2 separate regions of the Homo sapiens genome follow, and region 1 is linked to region 2. Evidence: fine-mapped QTL for protein levels in blood plasma. A gene starts in region 2. The other region holds a variant in brackets. All regions are shown on one strand. Distances are between the middles of the regions. Region 1 has its middle 33 kb from the start of TODL. Region 2 holds the start of CPM (carboxypeptidase M).

What was found. PIP is the posterior inclusion probability: the model's chance that the variant is causal. Protein levels are from the aptamer-based SomaScan assay of Sun 2018.
Region 1: its variant is fine-mapped to the plasma level of the CPM protein (Sun 2018, PIP 0.95).

What each region holds. Positions count from the first base shown.
Region 1 is chr12:69,034,820-69,045,686 of GRCh38, forward strand. No RefSeq gene overlaps it. Among named protein-coding and RNA genes, the nearest start is that of TODL, 33 kb to the left of the region's middle. RefSeq lists enhancers at 7,782-8,283, 8,284-8,783. The variant G/C (reference allele first, on the strand shown) is at 4,805.
Region 2 is chr12:68,926,721-68,937,587 of GRCh38, forward strand. CPM (carboxypeptidase M) reads right to left here and starts at 6,451. Exons shown (of 9, transcript NM_198320.5): 1 at 6,422-6,451; 2 at 5,958-6,120. The coding sequence starts at 6,117. RefSeq lists silencers at 6,331-6,690, 6,721-6,830.

The DNA of each region.
Region 1 (10,867 bases), 110 kb after region 2:
ATAATAAAGACAATTAGGTAATAATATGATTTAAACTCAAGGGGATGGTCTAGGACACCCACCCTTTTTGAAAATTATAGAAGCTCATTATGGTCACTATTAAAAGGATCTGGGCTTCATGTGACCCATTAGAATTAAATAAAAGGATGGAATCCTGTGGTCTGGACAGGAGCTTTCTGAGTACAATTAAGAAGCTCAGTGCACTGGGTCAAAAACATCAGCTATGGTTTGGGCTGACGTTATTTTCTCATTGAAAAGATTTATTATTAAATAGAAAAATGATGAAATAAATAAAACTCAAATTATTTATACTTCCATGTTAAGTTTAGAATAATCTGTGTTTTTCTTGTATTCTAAGTGCTTGCAGTATTTAAGAATTTGGCATTTTAAGGAATCTAGCAAGTTGTGATTCCAATTTAGAAAGAGTTAATTGGGTTGATTTAGACTTCAGAGGAATAAGATAATTTTACTTGGATTACAAGCAATAATGGAATAATTAAAAGAACTTAAGTTTAACCATCTTTGTAAATTTAATTAGATGTACAAGAATTATATAAATATACAATAAAGTTCATTTGATAACCAACTAAGGCAAAAAAATTTATTTATATTAAAATTATAAGTATAATTTTAAATGCTTAAAAGATTAAGCTGTAAAGGCTAAAATGTGATTATTGAACTCTTCTAGATTTGTATTAATAAATGCAACAATAAGATTTATAAGTTGACATCTTAAGAAAGAACAAAACTTTTTCAGTTGTCATTTAAAATGTAAAGGAATATAGAAAAGACCCGAGCAATCTTTACAGGGCATGAAAGCCACCTCTAAGAACACCAAAAATCTCCCCTGAAAATTTTCTTTCTTTTTTCCCCTATTGTCCTGTAGCTGCCCCTGACACCAATATCTTCTTTTTCTTCTCCTAGCACCAAAATGCTATGCATCGCAAAATAAAAATTTAGAATGTGATCATCTTTAAGCAATAATTTGTAAAATGTTTTGTAAATTGAAAATGAGACCTTTGCAGGAGAGGAAAATAAAGGGAAAAAGATTCTAAGTGGATTTATTACCACAGAACTGTATGTTTAAAAATGGTAAAGATGAGGCCAGGTTGGGTGGCTCATGCCTGTAATCCCAGCACATTGGGAGGCCAAGGTGGGTGGATCCTGAGGTCAGGAGTTCGAGACCAGTCTGGCCAACATGGCGAAATCCCATCTCTACTAAAAATACAAAAATTAACTGGGTGTGGTGCGGGTGCCTGTAATCCCAGCTACTCAGGAGGCTGAGGCTGGGGAATCCTTGAACGCAGGAGGTGGAGGTTGCAGTGAGCTGATATCTCACCACTGCACTCTAGCCTGGGCGACAGAGTGAGACTCCGTCTCAAAAAGAAAAAGAAAAAAAAATGGTAAAGATGGTAAATTTCATGTTTATTTTACCTCAATAAAAAAAGGAAAAAGAAAAAAGTTTTAATGAAATGTTTGCTTTATTCTTTCATGTTGTCACTTACTGGACTTCTGGACATTGGTCTGTACAGGTACAGAAGCCCTCTCATGCCATAAAGGTAAAAGCAATAGCAATAACCTATTAAAATAACACTAAAGCTGCAAAGAATTCACTCTTTTGCATGAGTGTGGCAGACAAATATTAAATGTGGATGAATAATTCTTTTTAGTCTCAGCATCCTTGAATTTGCTTGGTCCTTGAAGTAATTGCTTGCAGCATCGTTTACAAACTTCTTTTGAAAGTGACAGATGATAATCTTCCCCAACCCGAGCATCTTTGACATTGAAATGTGCAGTGTGAGGTTTCTAATAAGTCCATATGGGGTAGTGAAGCTCGAATGGTGCTCCACAAGCCCTCCAGGTTCCGTAGGGACTCCGAGGTGACAGCCTGGGCCTCCTTCCTCCTTCAACCAGAGCAGCTTCACTTCCGTCTCTTTTACATATCAGGCTTCTTGTCAGATTTCATTTAAGAGCAGCTTTCATAGCTTTGCAGATTCTGAAAACCACTGGGCCACAGTAGGCTTTTTCCAGAGCAGTGGAAACACTGTGCGAGGAATGTAAACTGCACAATGGGATGATATTAACTTGAGGGATCACTGGGCTGTTTTTTTTCTAAGAAATGTAAAGAGCTTCACAAATACTGACTTGGGGAATTTACTAGCCCTTTAACTAAACTGCAGGGGCAACCACCCTACATTATTTCCTTTGGAAATAAGATCATTCTTGTTTTCTTGGATATTTGAAGACTCTTCTTGCTTATATTTAGAAACTTCTCTCATTTTATTTGGCACTGATGATATAGCCTAGCCTTGTGAGCCTGTGGGCTATTCAAGGTTGCCAGTGTGGCAGAACAAGTCTTTTTATGTCTGCTTTCCTAATGCTCAACAGCTACTGAGCCTAAAGTAATAAGAGAGAGCTGTTTAAAATTTAACTCGAAACCAAGAAGGAGACAACGACTCTTAGCATAATACGAAAATGCTAGTAGGAGGTTTTGTTTTTGTGTTTGTGTTTTTCACTGTGTGCAAAAGCTCAGGTTGTTTTTTAGATGCTTTATTCCGTGGTCCTGCAATCAGACTGCCACAGGGGCCTCTGTGACTCTCTTGCTCCATTCATCTTTCAAGGTTTTTTGTTTTTTTTTTTGACAGAGTCTTGCTCTTGTCACCCAGGCTGGAGTGCAATGTCGTGATTTCAGCTCACTGCAACCTCCACCTCCTGGATTCAAGCGATTCTCCTGCCTCAGCCTCCTGAGTAGCTGGGATTACAGGTGCCCACCACCACGCCCGGCTCATTTTTTTTGTATTTTTAGTAGAGATGGGGGTTCACCATGTTGGCCAGGCTGATCTCGAACTCCTGACCTCAGGTGATCCACCCACCTCAGCCTCCCAAAGTGCTGGGATTACAGGTGTGAGCCACCTTGCCCGGCCCACTTTTCAAGGTTTTAAGGACCTTCCACCCTACTTGACCCATCCCTCATCCATCACAGGAGCTTGAATTGACTGAGAATGACCAATACCAATGACCAATGACCGGGGCAGAGGTTGGGAGGCAACACAGGAAGTGGAATAGAAAGGGTTAGAGATGGCTGAGTGAATGTGTTTGGGGGGAAGAAGACATAAGGGAGAGGGGTGTCAGGGTAGTAGGTGGTGATCTGAGTCATGTGAGGTACCCAGGCCTCTAGAGCCAGGGCCCTGTTTCATTAAAAATCTCCAAAACCTCTTTTGCCTTAGTTGAGACACAGCGTTTGAGCCTTCAGTAAGGACCTGAGTGAGGGTTCTTCAGGATTCTAAGTGTTTGCTTGACTTACAGTTCTACAATAAAATTATATTTTAGAGAAGATTTGAATCATTATTTTAAGATGTGGCAAAATGCAGGCACAATGCTCTCTCTAGATTGGATCACACTTTTAAAAAAATCGCAGTGACATGGAAGTTTGAGGACACTTAGAGTCCGGTTGAAAAGATTTTCTGGTCTCTTATTTTCTCCATGATATTCCATGCTAAGCAATATTCAATTTTTCCTTACCACTTGCAACGCTGGTCTGAAAATGAAGCTTTTTACTTTGTCTGAATGACTCTGAGCCTTGAGCTGGCATTACCCACTAGACAGCACAATCCAGTAGATCCTTCCATGATGATAGAAATATTCCATATCTGCAGAATCCAATATGGTATCTACTAGCCACATACAGCTATGGAGCACTAGAAACGTGGTCGATGCCACTGAAGAGCTGACTTTTTAATATTTTTAAATCAATTTAAATTTAAATACCCTCACGTGGCTAGTAGGTAATGTCTACATTCTTGGGGGTAGAAAAGAGAGGGCATGTTCATGCATTGCTGATGAGTCCAGCAGTCCTGGTGGGCTGCATTTCCTAAGGTGGGAGGCGTCTTCTCAGTCATTTTATTATTTTTTTCAGGGAATAAATTATAGGCCCTTTGTGACAATCACTCATAATTTTCCTATGTCGTTTGGGATGCCAAAGGGCAAGCTTCTACATATTTCTAATAGCAATGTTAAACCACAAGCAGGCACAATCTTTAAGAAGATTTTGGGCAAAATAGAGCCTTTCTCTGGGAAGCGGCACCCAGAGAACTTTGAACAAATAGTCCAGTCTTTTAATTCTACCCGCTTTCTATGAGAAGGAAAAACTGTTACCTAGTGATGTCAGAGGTCCCAGATCCTGGGTGGGATAAGTTCCTGAGGTCCTCTATCACTATTACCCTTCCCTGTAATGACAGGAGACCTCATGCTGGAGAGAGTGGTAACTCCCTCTGGTCAGCAATTTGACTCCATCCAAATCCAGTTATTAGTCCAACATAACTGTGATTTTGAACACTTATTTATTGGGCACCTCTTCTGTGCTAGGTGCAAGGGTTATCTCCTGTAATCTTTATAACAATGAAATCAATACTATTATTATCCAATTATGTAACCAAGGAAACTGATGCTTAGCAAGGTTAAGTAGCTTTCTCAAGGTCAAGGTGAGTGGTGGAGCAAGCAGGTAAACCCATGTGTGTCTAAGGCCACAGCCTATGCTCTAGTCACCAGGTAATCATTGATCTCTCTGGAATATCCACAGTTGGAAAGCAAGGACTTTGCAACTTGCTGCTGAATGTATTTCTTTTCTTTTCTTTTTTTAGACCGAGTCTCGTTCTGTCACCAGGCTGGAGTGCAGTGGCGCAATCTCGGCTCATTGCAACCTCCACCTCCCAGGTTCAAGTGAGTCTCCTGCCTCAGCCTCCCCAGTAGCTGGGACTACAGGCGCACACCAACACACCCAGCTAATTTTTGTATTTTTAGTAAA[G/C]ACGGGGTTTCACCATGTTGGCCAGGATGGTCTCGATCTCTTGACCTCGTGACCCACCCACCTTGGCCTCCCAAAGTGCAGGGATTATAGGTGTGAGCCGCTGTGCCCAGCCGCCGCTGAATGTATTTCTTACCACCAATCTGTTCAGTCATTACTATTCCTTCCCCCTTTCCTAAGTACCATGGGAAATGAAGCATAAAGCACTCAAAGTCCAAGGAAAAGGCAACATTCAGGATTCAGTTCCAGAATGTCTGCCTCTTCCAGACCCATGCTCCCACCAGTTGGCCATGCATTCTCAACTTGCATGCCTATGTCATCTGTCTCTTCTGACCCTGAAGAAAGCTTCTATTCACTCCATGAGCACCTGCACCTTCACTGAGTCAATAGTGAGTGGCTGCTATCTGCACCAAAATCCATTGCTCAATATTCTTTCTTCTCCATTCCAAATGGTTCCTCATTTCTGTGAAAGCCCACATGGTCTTACCATATGTCTCGTTGTCTTGGTAGTAAACGCATTTTTAAAAACAAATATGTCAGCATCATTTTGTTTTTTTTCATTAGTGGTCTCATGTTACAGTCATAACAGGTTGCATAATGGTTACATCTAGTACAAAATAATGCTATTGTGTTTTCTCTTGGAGGCTGTTATCTAGTTACATTGCTTGTGACTAGCTAAGGAGGATATTGTAGAAAAACAAAGACCTTCAAGGTAGACAGACCTGACTCTGAATTCTGACTTTATCATCCATTCATTTAAAAATATTTATTCAAGGCCAGGCGCGGAGGCTCATAGCTGTAGTCCCAGCACTTTGGGAAGCCGAGGCGGATGGATCACCTGAGGTCAGGAGTTCAAGACCAGCCATGGTCTTGAAATCCCATCTCTACTAAAAAATACAAAAAATTCGTTAGGTGTGGTGGCACACGCCTGTAATCTCAGCTACTTGGGAGGCTGAGGCAGGAGAATTGCTATATATATATATTCCTGGTACGTAGTAGGTCCTGAATAAATATGTATATATACTCCAATTTTAACATTTCCTATGCCCCTTCCCTGCTTTATTTTTCTCCTCAGCATATCATTGGCTAATATAGCTTTTTCTCCTCATTTGTCTTGATTAATGTCTATCTCACTCCACTTGAACATAAGCTCCATGAAGACAGTGTTTTTTTCTTTTTCTTTTTCTTTTTTTTTTTAATACAGTCTTGCTCTGTTGCCCAGGCTGGAGTGCAGTGGCTCAATCACAGCTCACTGCAGCCTCGAACTTCTGGGCTCGAGCGATCCTCCCACCTCAGCCTCCCAAGTAGCTGGGTAGCTGGGACTATAAGCATGTGCCACCATGCTCAGCTAATTTTTAAAAAGTTTTTCTTAGAGATGGGGGCCTTGCTATGTTGTCCAGGCTGGTCCTGAACTCCTAGCCTCAAGTCATCCTCCTGTCTCACCCTCCCAAAGCACTGGGATTAGAGTTGTGAGCAACCATGTCTGGTGTTTTATTCACTGCTTCATCCCAGCACTTAAAATGATCCCTGGCACATAGTAGGTCCTGAATAAATACGTGTGTGTGTGTATATACATATATACACACACAGATATATACACATATATATACATATATACACATATATACATATGCATATACATATATACATATATACACATATATACATATGTATATACATATATATACACATATATACATATGTATATACATATATATACACATATATACATATGTATATACATATATATACACATATATACATATGTATATACATATATATACACATATATACATATGTATATACATATATATACACATATATACATATGTATATACATATATATACACATATATACATATGTATATACATATATATACACATATATATATGTGTATACATATATATACACATATATATGTGTATATATATATATATACACATATATATATGTGTGTATATATATATATACACATATTTATTCAGGACCTACTATGTGCCAGCAATAATAATGTATTGATTGATATATGCCTGGCACATAGTAGGTCCTGAATAAATATGTGTGTGTATATATATATATATGTGTGTGTGTGTGTGTATATGTGTGTATATATATGTGTATATATGTGTATATATATGTGTATATATGTGTATATATGTATATATGTGTATATATGTGTATATATATGTGTGTGTGTATATATATATATACACACTCAGGACCTACTATGTGCCAGGAATCATTTTAAGTGCTGGGATAAAGCAGTGAATAAAACACCAGACATGGTTGCTCACACCTCTAATCCCAGTGCTTTGGGAGGGTGAGACAGGAGGATGACTTGAAGCTAGGAGTTCAGGACCAGCCTGGGCAACAAAGCAAGGCCTCCATCTCTAAGAAAAACTTTTTAAAAATTAGCTGAGCATTATAGTCCCAGCTACCCAGCTACTTGGGAGGCTGAGGTGGGAGGATCGCTTGAGCCCAGGAGTTCGAGGCTGCAGTGAGCTGTGATTGAGCCACTGCACTCCAGCCTGGACAATAGAGCAAGACCGTATAAAAACAAACAACAAAAAAAACAGAAAACAAAACACTGTCTTCATGAAGCTTACATTCAAGTGGAGTGAGATAGACATTAATCAAGACAAATGAGGAGAAAAAGGTATATTAGCCAGTGATATGCTGAGGAGAAAAATAAAGCAGGGAAGGGGCATGGGAAATGTTAAAATTAGAGTAGCCCGGAAAGGCTTAACTGAGAAAATGTCATTTGAGTCAAGGTTTAAAGGAGGTGAGGCAATGGATGTGCACACATTAGTCTAAATTTCTAGATACTTGATTTACTCAACTCTAAAGTGGGAACAAAAGCCACCTTGTTAATGACTTGTTCTGAGGATCAAGCCCAGTCATGAAGGGTATGTGGCCCAGGCATTGAATGGGTACATGACGGCAGCTGGCATTACTGTTCGTCATCGCCAGCAGCAGCAGCGCCATTAGAAACAGCCACTTGCTGGAACTGGAGATGGGTCATTTATACATTTACTATCCTCAAATGACCCTGCTGAGGAAACTCAGGTAATAGTTGGATTCTGAATATTGAATGAAATATGCTAGCCTTGGAGGAGCGACATGTGGTTTCAATATTTCTATCAGAATCTTGGCAGGAAATAAAGGGTGCCCTCATATTGGATAATTTGAAGAGTTTAAAAGAAGGCTATTTAAAAGATCGTCAAAGTGTAGGGAAAAGAGTAGTGCAGTGCCCAGAATTAGTAATGACAAGCACTGCTACCACCCCTCTATCCCCCATCCATCCCAGACCTGACAGGACAAGAGGAGAAGGTGCTTACCAGAGGCAGAGTCAGAGGGCCCCATGGAGAGGGCGCATGACGGGGCATGTGTGGCCTTTGGTGGGGAGATACAGCCAGCCTGCAGTGACTCCACAGAAAGGGAGCTGGAGAGTGAATACACCAGTGTCATTCTCCTTAAGCCCATCAGGGCTCCCCACTGGCCAACCCAGCTTGAAGTCACAGGGCAAGAGAGCCTGTGGAGCCGCTCCTGCAGGTCAGCCTCCCAGGGACCCAGCAGGTGGAGAGGGTGGGAGGAGCCCAGGCAGACACCCAGCAGAGTAGTGAAAGCAAATCAGTCATGACTCCCAGTGAGCCAGGCCACTCACTATTACTATTCTCCTCTGTGTTCAGGGAAAGCAACCCAGTTCTTTCCTTCCTTAGACGACCCTTTCACCACATTTGTTGCTTTCCTCTGGGTACTGCTCTTCCTCCTGCCCCTCCTAAGGTGCAATATTTGGTCAGGTGTTTGAGACATAACCAGATACATTAAAAATAAGGCCCAGTTGTGCATAAAGCCAGAGACTATACTGCTAAGCCCAGCCCATCTCTACCCCAGGAATGGTACTGGGACAAGAGTGAGATGGTCAGTTTGTCACTCACCAACATGAAAAAGGCAAGGCCAAACATGGTCTTGTCCAAAAGTGTATCAGTGTCACCGTTTTATTTTTTTAATGGGGCTCAAGCTATGACATTAAGTAAAAAAGGAACCAGATGTGAAACCATGTAAACAATACAATCTCAACCATGTAATAATTATGTGAATGTATAGAAATAAGACTAAAAAGAAATACTCAAACTCTCTGCATTGATTATTTATAGAATGTAGATTAGGATGATTTTTTAAATCCCTTATCCATATTTTTCCAAGTTTTATCAAGGAAAAGTTGTTCCTTTTAAAATAAAAGAGAAAACAGTAAAAACTTATTGCTGTTTGTTTTTTTTTAATAGAAGGAACATGACCTGTTTCCTGTAATTCACATCTCTATTTATCTCCCCAGTAAGTTATAACTTTCATTTGTGGGAAACTTTATTCCAGGATCACTAAAAAAATTTTTTTTTTACTAAACTGATTATTTTGTTGTTTGTAAAGAAAATGATTTTATAGATAATTTTGTGGTTTTTTTGTTTTTTGTTTTTGTTTTGTTTATTTTTTTTGGAGATACAATCTCGCTGTGTCCCAGGCTGGAGTGCAGTGGTGCAATCTCAGCTCACTGCAACCTCTGCCTCCTGGGTTCGAACGATTCTCCTGTCTTAGCCTCCCAAGTAGCCACCCGGGATTACAGGCGCCCGCCACCATGCCTGGCTAATTTTTGTATTTTTAGTGGAGATGGGGTTTCACCATGTTGGCCAGGCTGGTCTCGAACTCCTGATCTCAAGTGATCCACCCACCTTAGCCTCCCAAAGTGCTGAGATTACAGGCATGAGCCACCATGCTTGGCTGATAATTTCTAAAAAGAGAATGCTAAGCAGTTTAAAATATATTTTCTAAATGCTGGTTTACTTTTGATTCATGTTTATATGTATAATACTAAAAGTATGCTTTGAGAGCTTCAGTCCGTGGGCGTCAAGTTTATTCTCACCAGCTACTAAAATTCTTAGGCTAGAAATATATAATTATAAAACATTAAATGTAATCTAATTATCATTTTCTTATATTGGATTAACCACAAAGTGGATCCAGAGAGACGGCTGTTTTAGTACAGTGCAATTTTTTCTTTACTCTAAGCCCAATCCTGTTTTGCTCAACAAATCTTTTCTGAGTACATGGCAGGTATGCCTGGCACTGGATTAGGCTCTGGGAATATAACAAAGAATGAGACAAAGCTCCTGCCCTTAAGGAGTAGCAGCAGCAAAGACAGAAGTCTAAGGAAATGATTTCGATCCAGCGCAAGAACAGCAAAAGCTAACTGCAGCGGGTTATGAAAGCCCAGAAAAGCCACTCAAGTAAAAAAAATTAATAAATAACAAATAAATAAATCCACCTAACCTACTTGCTGCTGAGCTTGCCAACTCCTTGGTGACTGGAACTCTTTGTTTTTTATTTTTCACTGGGCTGATCAGGATGGAGTTCAGTGTAACCAGGCTTGAGTGGTAAGAGACGTCTCAACAGGCCTGATTCTGCTCAGCTGCCCACGCCCTCATCACCCTTTCAAAGGTGAGGAGAGCTGCATCCTCAAGAGACAGGAGCAATGACTCACTGAGGCCAGCTGCCCCCTTCAAGGCAGCATCTCTTAATTCAGGACAGTATTCTCTGCTTGCTTGGGAGAACCATCTGCTTGCAAGTTGCCAAGAAGTTACAAAGTTGGTTTTGGTAGTGGAATGGAGAAGACAGAGAGTGAAGAATAAAATAATGCTAAAGAATTTGGACTTTTTTGGGGAAAAAAAAGACTTCATTTTTGGGGAAAAAAAAGACTTCATTTTTGGGAAACGTGGAGTGCTGTGAATGGTGGATGGTTTTGTCATAGGCTGAGGAGCCACTGCAGGTGATGAGCAGAGAGCTGTTGCATAGAACGTAGGCAGAGATGCTGTTCAGGTGGCGTGCCCTGGTTCAGCCGAATAGCAGATCATGGTAAAGTCTGCTCTACCCGGTTGGTGCTTGTGCCAAGCAATGCCAATTATTAAATGCTTGGACCATCTTCCCTACAGGTATGTGTACCTTAAATAGCTGTGTCAGCAGACAGGTACCTTTCTCGTTGTTCCCTCGAGCCTGTTTATGTTTAGTCACTG
Region 2 (10,867 bases):
CCCCACAACAGTCCCCAGAGTGTGATGTTCCCCTTCCTGTGTCCAATGTGTTCTCATTGTTCAATTCCCACCTATGAGTGAGAATATGTGGTGTTTGGTTTTTTGTTCTTGCGATAGTTTACTGAGAATGATGATTTCCAATTTCATCCATGTCCCTACAAAGGACATGAACTCATCATTCTTTGTGGCTGCATAGTATTCTATGGTGTATATGTGCCACATTTTCTTAATCCAGTCTATCGTTGTTGGACATTTGGGTTGGTTCCAAGTATTTGCTATTGTGAATAGTGCCGCAATAAACATACATGTGCATGTGTCTTTATACCAGCATGATTTATAGTCCTTTGGGTATATACCCAGTAATGGGATGGCTGGGTCAAATGGTATTTCTAGTTCTAGATCCCTGAGGAATCGCCACACTGACTTCCACAATGGTTGAACTAGTTTACAGTCCCACCAACAGTGTAAAAGTGTTCCTATTTCTCCACATCCTCTCCAGCACCTGTTGTTTCCTGACTTTTTAATGATCGCCATTCTAACTGGTGTGAGATGGTATCTCATTGTGGTTTTGATTTGCATTTCTCTGATGGCCAGTGATGGTGAGCATTTTTTCATGTGTTTTTTGGCTGCATAAATGTCTTCTTTTGAGAAGTGTCTGTTCATGTCCTTCACCCACTTCTCGATGGGGTTGTCTGTTTTTTTCTTGTAAATTTGTTTGAGTTCATTGTAGATTCTGGATATTAGCCCTTTGTCAGATGAGTAGGTTGCGAAAATTTTCTCCCATTTTGGAGGTTGCCTGTTCACTCTGATGGTAGTTTCTTTTGCTGTGCAGAAGCTCTTTAGTTTAATTAGATCCCATTTGTCAATTTTGGCTTTTGTTGCCATTGCTTTTGGTGTTTTAGACATGAAGTCCTTGCCCGTGCCTATGTCCTGAATGGTAATGCCTAGGTTTTCTTCTAGGGTTTTTATGGTTTTAGGTCTAACGTTTAAGTCTTACACCAGTAACAGACAAACAGAGAGCCAAATCATGAGTGAACTCCCATTCACAATTGCTTCAAAGAGAATAAAATACCTAGGAATCCAACTTACAAGGGACATGAAGGGCCTCTTCAAGGAGAACTACAAACCACTGCTCAATGAAATAAAAGAGGATACAAACAAATGGAAGAACAATTCCATGCTCATGGGTAGGAAGAATCAATATCGTGAAAATGGCCATACTGCCCAAGGTAATTTATAGATTCAATGCCATCCCCATCAAGCCACCAATGACTTTCTTCACAGAATTGGAAAAAACTACTTTAAAGTTCATATGGAACCAAAAAAGAGCCCGCATTGCCAAGTCAGTCCTAAGCCAAAAGAGCAAAGCTGGAGGCATCATGCTACCTGACTTCAAACTATACTACGAGGCTACAGTAACCAAAACAGCATGGTACTGGTACCAAAGCAGAGATATAAATCAATGGAACAGAACAGAGACCTCAGAAATAACGCCGCATATCTACAACTATCTGATCTTTGACAAACCTGAGAAAAACAAGCAATGGGGAAAGGATTCCCTATTCAATAAATGGTGCTGGGAAAACTGGCTAGCCATATGTAGAAAGCTGAAACTGGATCCCTTCCTTACACCTTATACAAAAATTAATTCAAGATGGATTAAAGACTTAAATGTCAAGCTGCTTTTTAAAAGAGAATAGAGAGGTGCTTGGGAAATAGGCAGATCTGAGTTTGAATCTTCTAATACTTAGCTATGTTATCTTCAGCAAGTTAATTAACCTCTCTGTGCCTCATTTTACCTGTTTTGTAAATGAGGATAAGGCCTACTTTGAGTTGCTGAGATCGAAATAATGTCTTAAACTATTTACTACATGGAAAGTACTTGATAACAGAGACTACTAAATTTGGCTGGCTTTAAAAAATCTCTAATAGTATTATCACTAGTAAGGAAGGTGTTATTATCCCGCCTACTGTATTCAGATACAATGATGATCAGACTTAGCAGGAGGCAAGACAAGATACTTTTTTTTTTTTTTTGAGACAGGGTCTTGCTCTGTAGGCCAGGCTGGAGTACGGTGGCACGATCATGGCCCACTGCAGCCTTGAACTCCCAGGCTCAAGTGATTCTCCTGCCTCAGTTTCCCAAGTAGCTGGGACCACAGGCATGCACCATTATGCCTGGTTAATTAAATTTTTTTTTTTTTTTTTAAGAAATGGAGTCTCCCATGTTGCCTAGGCTGGTCTCCTGAAGTGCTGGGATTATAGACGTGAGCCACCACACCCAGTCAATGCAAGATTCTTAAAATAGATGGTAGGAAATCTCATTTAAAATGGCCCTTTGGGGTTTTGTATGTAGCAGAGCAGTTCTTTCATTGCTATCTATTGATAGTCAACCCTCAACACAAGGGTTCATTTTTTAAAAAAATAATAAAATGTTCCTAAACTAATTTTGGGGTGTGTGTGGAGAGACTACCCTGAGAAATTCACAGTAAATACATTTGTATTTGAAAATGAGCTACCTAATGGCAGGGAATGAATGACACACACGTTTGTTTGCTTCCCATGCCTTTTGCTCAGCAAATATTTGATCCATTAAATAAATAGATATAGATTATTGATTATGTGCCAGGCATCCTTCTAGACAAAGGGGTTGGGGCAAAAAATGGGAGGTGCTTCCTTAATTGAACGGAGGATTGAACGAACGAACTGATGAACACTGTACCTTTTCTGATTTTTCTGAACTAAGTCATCAGTACTTTTTTGCTTCTCTTGTTTCACCTAAGATTTTCTTTACTATGTCACTAGGCAGTGGGATTTCCTTCAAAAGGCTCAACTGAAATATGGTCTACTATGGCTGAAGCTGGGTATAGATGTGTTTAACTTTTGTGTGGATTTTAAAAGTTTCAAAATAAAAACGTTTTTAAAAATCACCAATAATAATAGAAGGTAATTATCATGACATGTATCAATGGTTTTATAGTATCCCTGTTTATAACAGAGTTAACCAAAAACTATACAGATGCTCAAAGAGGTGAATGACTAAGAAAATTCACATAATCAAGAGGATAGAATACTAAACAGCAACGAATTCACATCTACCGACTTTGTCAATTCATGGAAATATCTAAGGAAATAACATGAAATGAAAAAACAAGCAGAATATAATCCACAATTACAACAAAGAAAATATGTGATATGCATATATTTACATAGGCATAGCACATATATTTAAGTTTTTACAAAAACTAAACATGTATTTAGTTACTTAGGAATATTACTTTCCCTTCTGGGTAAGACTGCCCACGTTAATACATGTAATATAAATAAATAAATAAATAACACGTGTATAATAAATTCTGTTTATTTTCTTTTATTTTGAGATAGAGTTTCACTCTTGTCACCCAGGCTGGAGTGCAGTGGCATGATCTTGGCCCACTGCAACCTCTGCCTCCTGGGTTCACGCTATTCTCCGGTCTCAGCCTCTCTAGTAGCGGGAACCACAGGTGCACACCACCATGTCTGGTTAATTTTTTGTATTTTTAGTAGAGACAACGTTTCACCATGTTGGCCAGGCTGGTCTCAAATTCCTGACCTCAGGTGATCCTCCCGCCTCGGCCTCCCAAGGTGCTGGGATTACAGGCATGAGTCACTGGGCCTGGTCATAAATTCTGTTTTCTAAGCAAACTTATCTTACATCAGAGGGCAGAATGGTTAGGGAAAATATCTAGTGAAAAAGACCACCAACAAAGGAGCACCATCTCTCAATTGTCACACTAATGTGCAGTGACACTTTGGCAACTGACTCCCAGTTACTGGCATACAGTTTCATCTACCAGTTGGAGCCAAATGGCAGATTTGGGATTTTTCTTAATCCGAGTTATTATTCAGAACAACATATTCAACACAAATATTTAACCACTAGTGTCAGATTTTATTTTTACATGATAACTCCTCAAGCCTTTAACCGCAAGAGTGCATACAAGGTAAAATTAAAAACAAAATTAAGCCTGCTGACTTTCACTGTGATTGTGGTTTGATATCATGCAGGATAGATCACAACTGCTGATTCATATTAGGAAAGAGAGCCCCCAACTGTCACAAGCACATTGTGTTTGAAAATACAAAACCTTACCAAATCACTTAGTACTTAAAATTAACAACATCCTCATCATCTTGTGGTTGAAATGATGACTGAACAATAACTCAAGCTAGTTGTGTTCTATATATTTTTAATTAATATAATTAGTATTCCTAGATCTTTTTAAATTGCTCTACTCTAGCCCTAGGGAAAAATGATTTCAGAAGGCTGAATACGTATGCTGATTCAAGATATGATTTCTCACACACCCAACCTCTATAATTTTGGATTATAGAGCAATATAGAGTAATTCTGGCACCATCTCTTTGGCAATGCTGTTTAAAAACAAAGTTACTATTACACACAGCCCAGGATATTGACTTCGCATTGCACATAAATACATTTATATAATACTTTTTCTTTAATATAGAAGCCATAGCCTTGATTTTTTTGAAAAATGATGAAGAATATGGTAATTATGAGACTCTCAATTGACTCAAAAGTTCAGAGCTAAAATCAAGGTAGAGTTTGAACACACCTTACAAAAAGTTGAGATCCAAATTGCATAAAATTTATGAAACTTTTGATTTAAGGACTAAGTTTTCTGGTAACCTCTTTGGGAACATCAGGATAATAAAAGATGATTAAGTAATAATGGTATCTCGGCCGGGCACGGTGGCTCATACCTGTAATCCTAGCACTTTGGGAGGCCGAAGCAGGAGGATCACAAGGTCAGGAGTTTGAGACCAGCCTGGCCAATATGGTGAAACCCCATCTCTACTAAAAATACAAAAAAATTAGCCAGCTGTGGTGGCGCATTCCTGTAATCCCAGCTACTCGGGAGACTGAGGCAGGAGAATTGCTTGAACTCAGGAAGCCGGAGGTTGCAGTGAGCCGAGATCACGCCACTGCACTCCAGCCTGGGCAACAGAGCGAGACTCTGACCAAAAAAAAAAAAAAAAAAAAAAGAAAGAAAGAAAGAAAGAAAGAAAGATGAAATAACGATATCTGATCAAATTATTTGCCTTGGCCGGATGGGTGCCAGTCCTGGCTATAAAATTCACCATCTGGGAGACCTTGAACAAATTATTTAATTTATCTGATTCAAACTTGCTGTCTATAAAAATGAAAATAACTTTATGTAGTTTCTAACTTAGAACAATAAATTATTAATGATAAATATGAAAATGCTGGGAAGAGTTTCAATCACTACTAATATATATTCATTATCTAGCATTGTCTTCTTCAAATGGATACATTTTAAAAACAGCCTTTAATCATAGAACCACTTTTTTGCATAACTTTAAGCCATAGGGCTAATTATACACGACACAAATCTAACCAACAGAACTGTACTACTTAGATTAAAAGAAACTTGCAGAAATGATAGTTTTGCATAACTTTAAATAAAAGGCTAACTACAGATGACACAGAAATCTTACCAACAAAACTGCATTATTTCAGTTTAAAAGAGACATGAAGAAATGACATTAACAGTCCAAGTCATATATAAAGAAGCCCACACAAAGGGGAACTGAAACGGATAAACGGACTTACTTGGGAGTTTATCTTGAAAAGGAACTAAAACATACATCCCAAATAACCAATGTCTGCAAGATCCAAAAAGACAGAAGAACTCCAATAATGGAAAGGACTCAGTGACACTGAATTACAATGGACAAGTCCAGTAAAATTCAGTTCTTCCTACTATTCCTCCCAACAAAAGCAGAAAACAACCAACACGCACGGTACCGGTTGACTTGTTCTGTGCCACTCAGAGTAGGTGCGTGGAAGAGCAGACAGGAAGCTGGGGCATATTTAATGAATACTGAAAGGGAGGACTGAGGGTTTGGCAAAGTGTTCACGAGACGGACCCTACCTTTCACAGATTTCCCAATACTGTGTAAGTGAGTGACAGAACTGTAGTTTTGGGCAACAGTCTTCAAAAACGCTTCCATCCCTTCCTGGCGGTGGTAGTTGAAATCCAGCGCAGCTACCAAAGGCAGCAACAGCCCTAGCCAGAGGCACGGGAAGTCCATGTTCTAGAGATGAATAAAAATAAGAAGAACCTGAGAACACATGAGGGCAGGCGGGGGCATCACCAGCTACGTCTCGGTACTCCGGTCTCAGGGTCTCCCGACACTGACGCTCCCTGCCTCCTAAGGAGGCAAAAGCTGGAAGCAACACCTTCGGGAGTGAGCCGTGCAACCAGAGACCGGGAGCACGGGCAGCCTCGGTGCCCTCGACCCAGCCGCCCGCGCCTCCCTCTCCTCCTCCTCCTGGCGCCTCCGCCGTCCGGCAGCTGCCACAGCTGCGCCCGGCCCCGCGCACCCCCAGCCTCACCAGGTCCCAGGCGCGCACCTCTACCCACCCGCGGCCGCCCGGCGGGGCCGGGTGTTATAGCCCGGTCAGAGGGCGGGCGCGCCCGGGCCCCGCCCCCGGACGTCCCTCCGGCCCACTCCGGAGCCGCGCGGGTGCCTCCCGGGCGGGGCCTCAGCCGCCTTCGCACCTAGGAGAGACGGCGCCCGCGCGGTGCGCCCTTTCGTGGCGCGGCTGCTGGTGCCCGCGGCCGGGCGGCTGAGCTGGGCGGAGGGCTGCGGGCATGGAGTCGCCGCTCGCGGACAGTCTTTGCTGGAGCCCCAGGTCAGAAGTGTGTCCTCGCCTCGGCCACGGCTGTAGCCTGGGCAGCCACAGGGCGCTCCACCGAGGGACACTCTCTGTCGCAGACTGCAGCCGCTTGGGAGACGTTTAGGGCTCGGCGGGTTTCCTGCGGTTGGCGGTGCCGGGGCCCACCTGGAGCCGGGACGCATGCGGAGTCCTGAGTGCCCTGAGCCCCGCGCGGGCTCCTGCGGGACGGGCGGCGTCGGCCCCGGCAGGGCGAGCCAAGCTCCCAGCAGTGCCAAGCTGCCCAGCGAGGCTAAGCAATCACGGGGCTTCGAGAAAGAACGCGCGCGTGTGTGGAAGTTTTAAATGCCACGAAGTGCAGAGTGCAGGACATTTTCCAACAAGTTTACATAGTGGGTGGGATTTGTGTAAATTAGAATTGAATTTAAAACTGGAAGTCACATCGAAGAAGGCAGGACCACTGTTGTAAATCCGATGCTTCCTCCACCTGCACCTGAGTCTTAGGCCAATTACAGGTCTCTCGTCCTAAAACGTCCTAAAATGCTCCTTTCTGGAAGGATGGCATGGTCTCTGCACGAGAGAGAACGAAGGCTTCACTCAAACCTGAGAGGTGGTTTGTGGCACGGGCCAACCCCCTCTACCTCTCTAAAAGATTCATTCTCATTCATTCTCTCTCTCTCCCCTCCCCCTCTCCCCTTCCCTCTCTCCCCCTTTCTCCCACTCTCTCCCGGATTGTAAGTAACCGTGTCAGGGTATTGGGGGCCCGTGTCAAGGTCCGCAGAATATAAAAAGTTTGAAAACCACTGATTTGAGATAACATTCCACTTTTACAGACTAAAAATACGGATGCAAGCCCACGACTAATTGAATAGAATTTTTCTCGTGGAGGCCCAAGAAAGTGTATTTTTAGAGAGGACCTTGAATGAATCTAATGTGCCTTCAAGAGCTGAGAACCGTTAGATTCCCTGCCCCTTCTTTCTTACAGATATAGATACTTTTCCTAGAATTGCGCACTCAGGACTCCCTGAGACTTCCAGTGATTCTGCCGCAGCATAGAAGAGTGGTTTAAGAACTGAGGCGCTCTGCCCTTGCGATAGTTTGCTGAGAATGATGGTTTCCAGCTTCATCCATGTCCGTACAAAGGACATGAACTCATCCTTTTTTATGGCTGCATAGTATTCCGTGGTGTATATGTGCCACAGTTGTGCACATGTGCCCTAGAACTTAAAGTATATATAAAGAAAAAAAAAGAACTGAGGCGCTCACGGGATGAGTGCCAATTCTTGCTCTGACACTCAGTGGCTGTGTCGACTCTGTGCCTTATTTTCTGGTGTGTAAAGTGGAAGTCTTAATTGTACCTACCTAAATAAGGTTGGCAGGCACATTGTAAGAACTGTGCGAAGCGTTTATTACATAAATAAACCAGCTTAATTCGTAACTCTTTAAAGGGAATTTTCCAAGAGTTGGAATTTTTTTTTTAATTTTTTATTTCTTTCTTTATTTTTTGAGATGGAGTCTCAATTCTGTTGCCCAGTCTGGAGTGCAATGGCATGATCTCGGCTCACTGCAACCTCCTCTCAGGTTCAAGCAATTCTCCTGCCTCAGCCTACCGAGTAGCTCGGATTACAGGCACCTGCCACCAGGCCCGGCTAATTTTTGTATTTTTAGTAGAGACGGGGTTTCACCATGTTGGCCAGGCTGGTCTGGAACTCCCGACCTCGGGCGATCTGCCTGCCTCGGCCTCCCAGATCGCTGGGATTACAGGCGTGAGCCACCGTGCCTGGCCATCTTTTTTTTTTTCTTAAAGAGAAGTTGTTTTATTGTTTGTTTGTTTGTTTGTTTGTTTGTTTGTTTTGAGATACAGTCTCACTCTGTTGCCCAGGCTTGAGTGCAGTGGTGCAATCTCAGCTCACTGCAGCCTCTGCCTTCCAGGTTCAAGCGATTCTTGTGTTTCAGCCTCTAACGTACCTGGGATTACAGGCACGCATCGCCACACCTACGTAACTTTTGTATTTTTACACCACACATGCCTAACTTCTGCATTTTTAATAGAGACCAGGTTTCACCATGTTGGCCAGGCTAGTCTTGAACTCCTGGCCTCAAGTGATCCTTCTGCCTCAGCCTCCCAAAGTGCTGGGATTACATGAGTGAGCCACCTTGCCTGGCCTAAGAGTTGGAAGTCTTAGTATGACATTGTAGAGTCTTTGAGTAGGTTTTTTTTTTTTTAATTGTGCAGTAGTCACTATGCTAAATGTTATTTCCACTGGAAGGGTTGAAGACGTTTCCCTTTCATTGTTGTTCATTGACTAAGAGGTCTGAGGAGGGGGACTGGAGCTTGAGAAGATTAAATTTAGGCAAAGTTACTCTAGGAATGGGAAAGGGAACTGGGTGGGAACAAAGTGAAGGCTTGCTGATGTACCTTAGAAATCCTATCTTTTTAAGAGAAGTACGTGGACACTATCTGATTTCCTGCAGGGTGCTGTGGCTGGAGACTGGAAGAAATGGTGGCTTCATCAATACTGGAATGGAGATTGCCAGGATTGTTGTTCTGGAAAAACAGAGATGAGCTATAGTTGAAATTGCTGCCATTGGGGTTCACACTAGGTAGGAAGGGAGGCAACTTCAGGAAGGAGTCAGAGAATGGAGGTAGGGGGTACAGAGGACTGAGTGCTGAAGGTTTAGGAGCTAGTAACTCAGAGTGCAGGCCAGGGACAGCACTGGCATCACCTGGGAGCTTGTTGGAAATGTAGAATCTGTCACTCCACTCCAAACCTACTGAATCAGAACACACATTTTAATAAGATTTCCAGATGATGTATATGTACATTCAAGTTTAAGGTGCACTGGTCAAGAGAGAAAAAAAAATTTAGTGTTAAGAGTATGAAAGATAACAGCAAAATAAAAGGTTAGCCTAATAGAGTAAAATACTGAAGTTTAGAGATTTTAGAGGTGATCTTCTTTCTTTCTTCTTTTTTTTTGAGATAGAGTCTTGCTCTGTTGCCCAGGCTGGAGTGCAGTGGCACAATTTTAGCTCACTGCAACCTCCACCTCCCGGGTTCAAGCAATTCTCCTTCCTCAGCCTCCTGAGTAGCTGGGATTACAGGTGCCCACCACCACGCCTGGCTAATTTTTGTATTTTTAGTAGAGACGGGGTTTCACCACGTTGGCCAGGATGGTCTCGAACTCCTGGCCTCAAATTATCTGCCTGCCTCAGCCTCCCAGAGTGCTGGGATTACAGGTGTGAGCCACCAGGCCTGGACCTAGAGGTGATCTTTCTAAGTATGGCACCATTAAAGGTAAAACCATAATAAAAAGGCTAATAATTTGAAAACATACAAATGTATGACTTCTGTACAGAAAACCTTATAAAGGTTATAAGAAGAAAGGTTTAAATCAGGTTATGAGAAAAATTACAAGCTGGAAGAAGGAATTAATGCTCTTACAAAATAAAGAATGAGCAAAGGAGATGAATAAGCAGTTCATAAAAGCAGTAACACAAATAGCTAATAAATATAGTAAAGGTTACCAACCTGGTAAGCAATCAAAGAATTACAAGTTAAAAGGGTAAAGTAATACTTTGTTTTGCTTATCACAAAGCAAGATTAAAAAGATTGACAATACCTGGAAGTAGACAGGATCTCAGGAAATGACATTTATGCTGTTTCAATGGTGTTCTAAATTAATACAATCTTTCTGGAGGGAAATCTGGGAATAGACATCAAAATTTTGTATGTGCCATTCCTTGCTAGAAATTTATGCTATAGAAGTAATTTGAAGATGTGTTGAGTTTGTATATGTTAGGAGCTTCATAAGTGCTGCTGCTTTAAATTGTGACAAAGTAGATAAAACCTAAATGTCAAACAACAGCAGATTGGTTAGATCAGTGGTTCTCAACTTGAGGCAGTAGTGCCCACAGCAGACATTTGGCAATATCTTGAGACATTTTTGATTGTCATAACTAGGGATGGGAGCTACTGGCATCTAGTGCTGATACAGAGGGCAGGGAGGCATTAAATATCCTTCAGTGCACAACACAGCCTCCCACAACAAAGAATTATTCAGCCCAAAATGTCAATAGTGCTGAAGTTAAGACACCCTGGGTTAAAGAATATTATAGCTGTACAATTAATTGTTTTTCAGCCATAATAATGTCAATGTAGATCT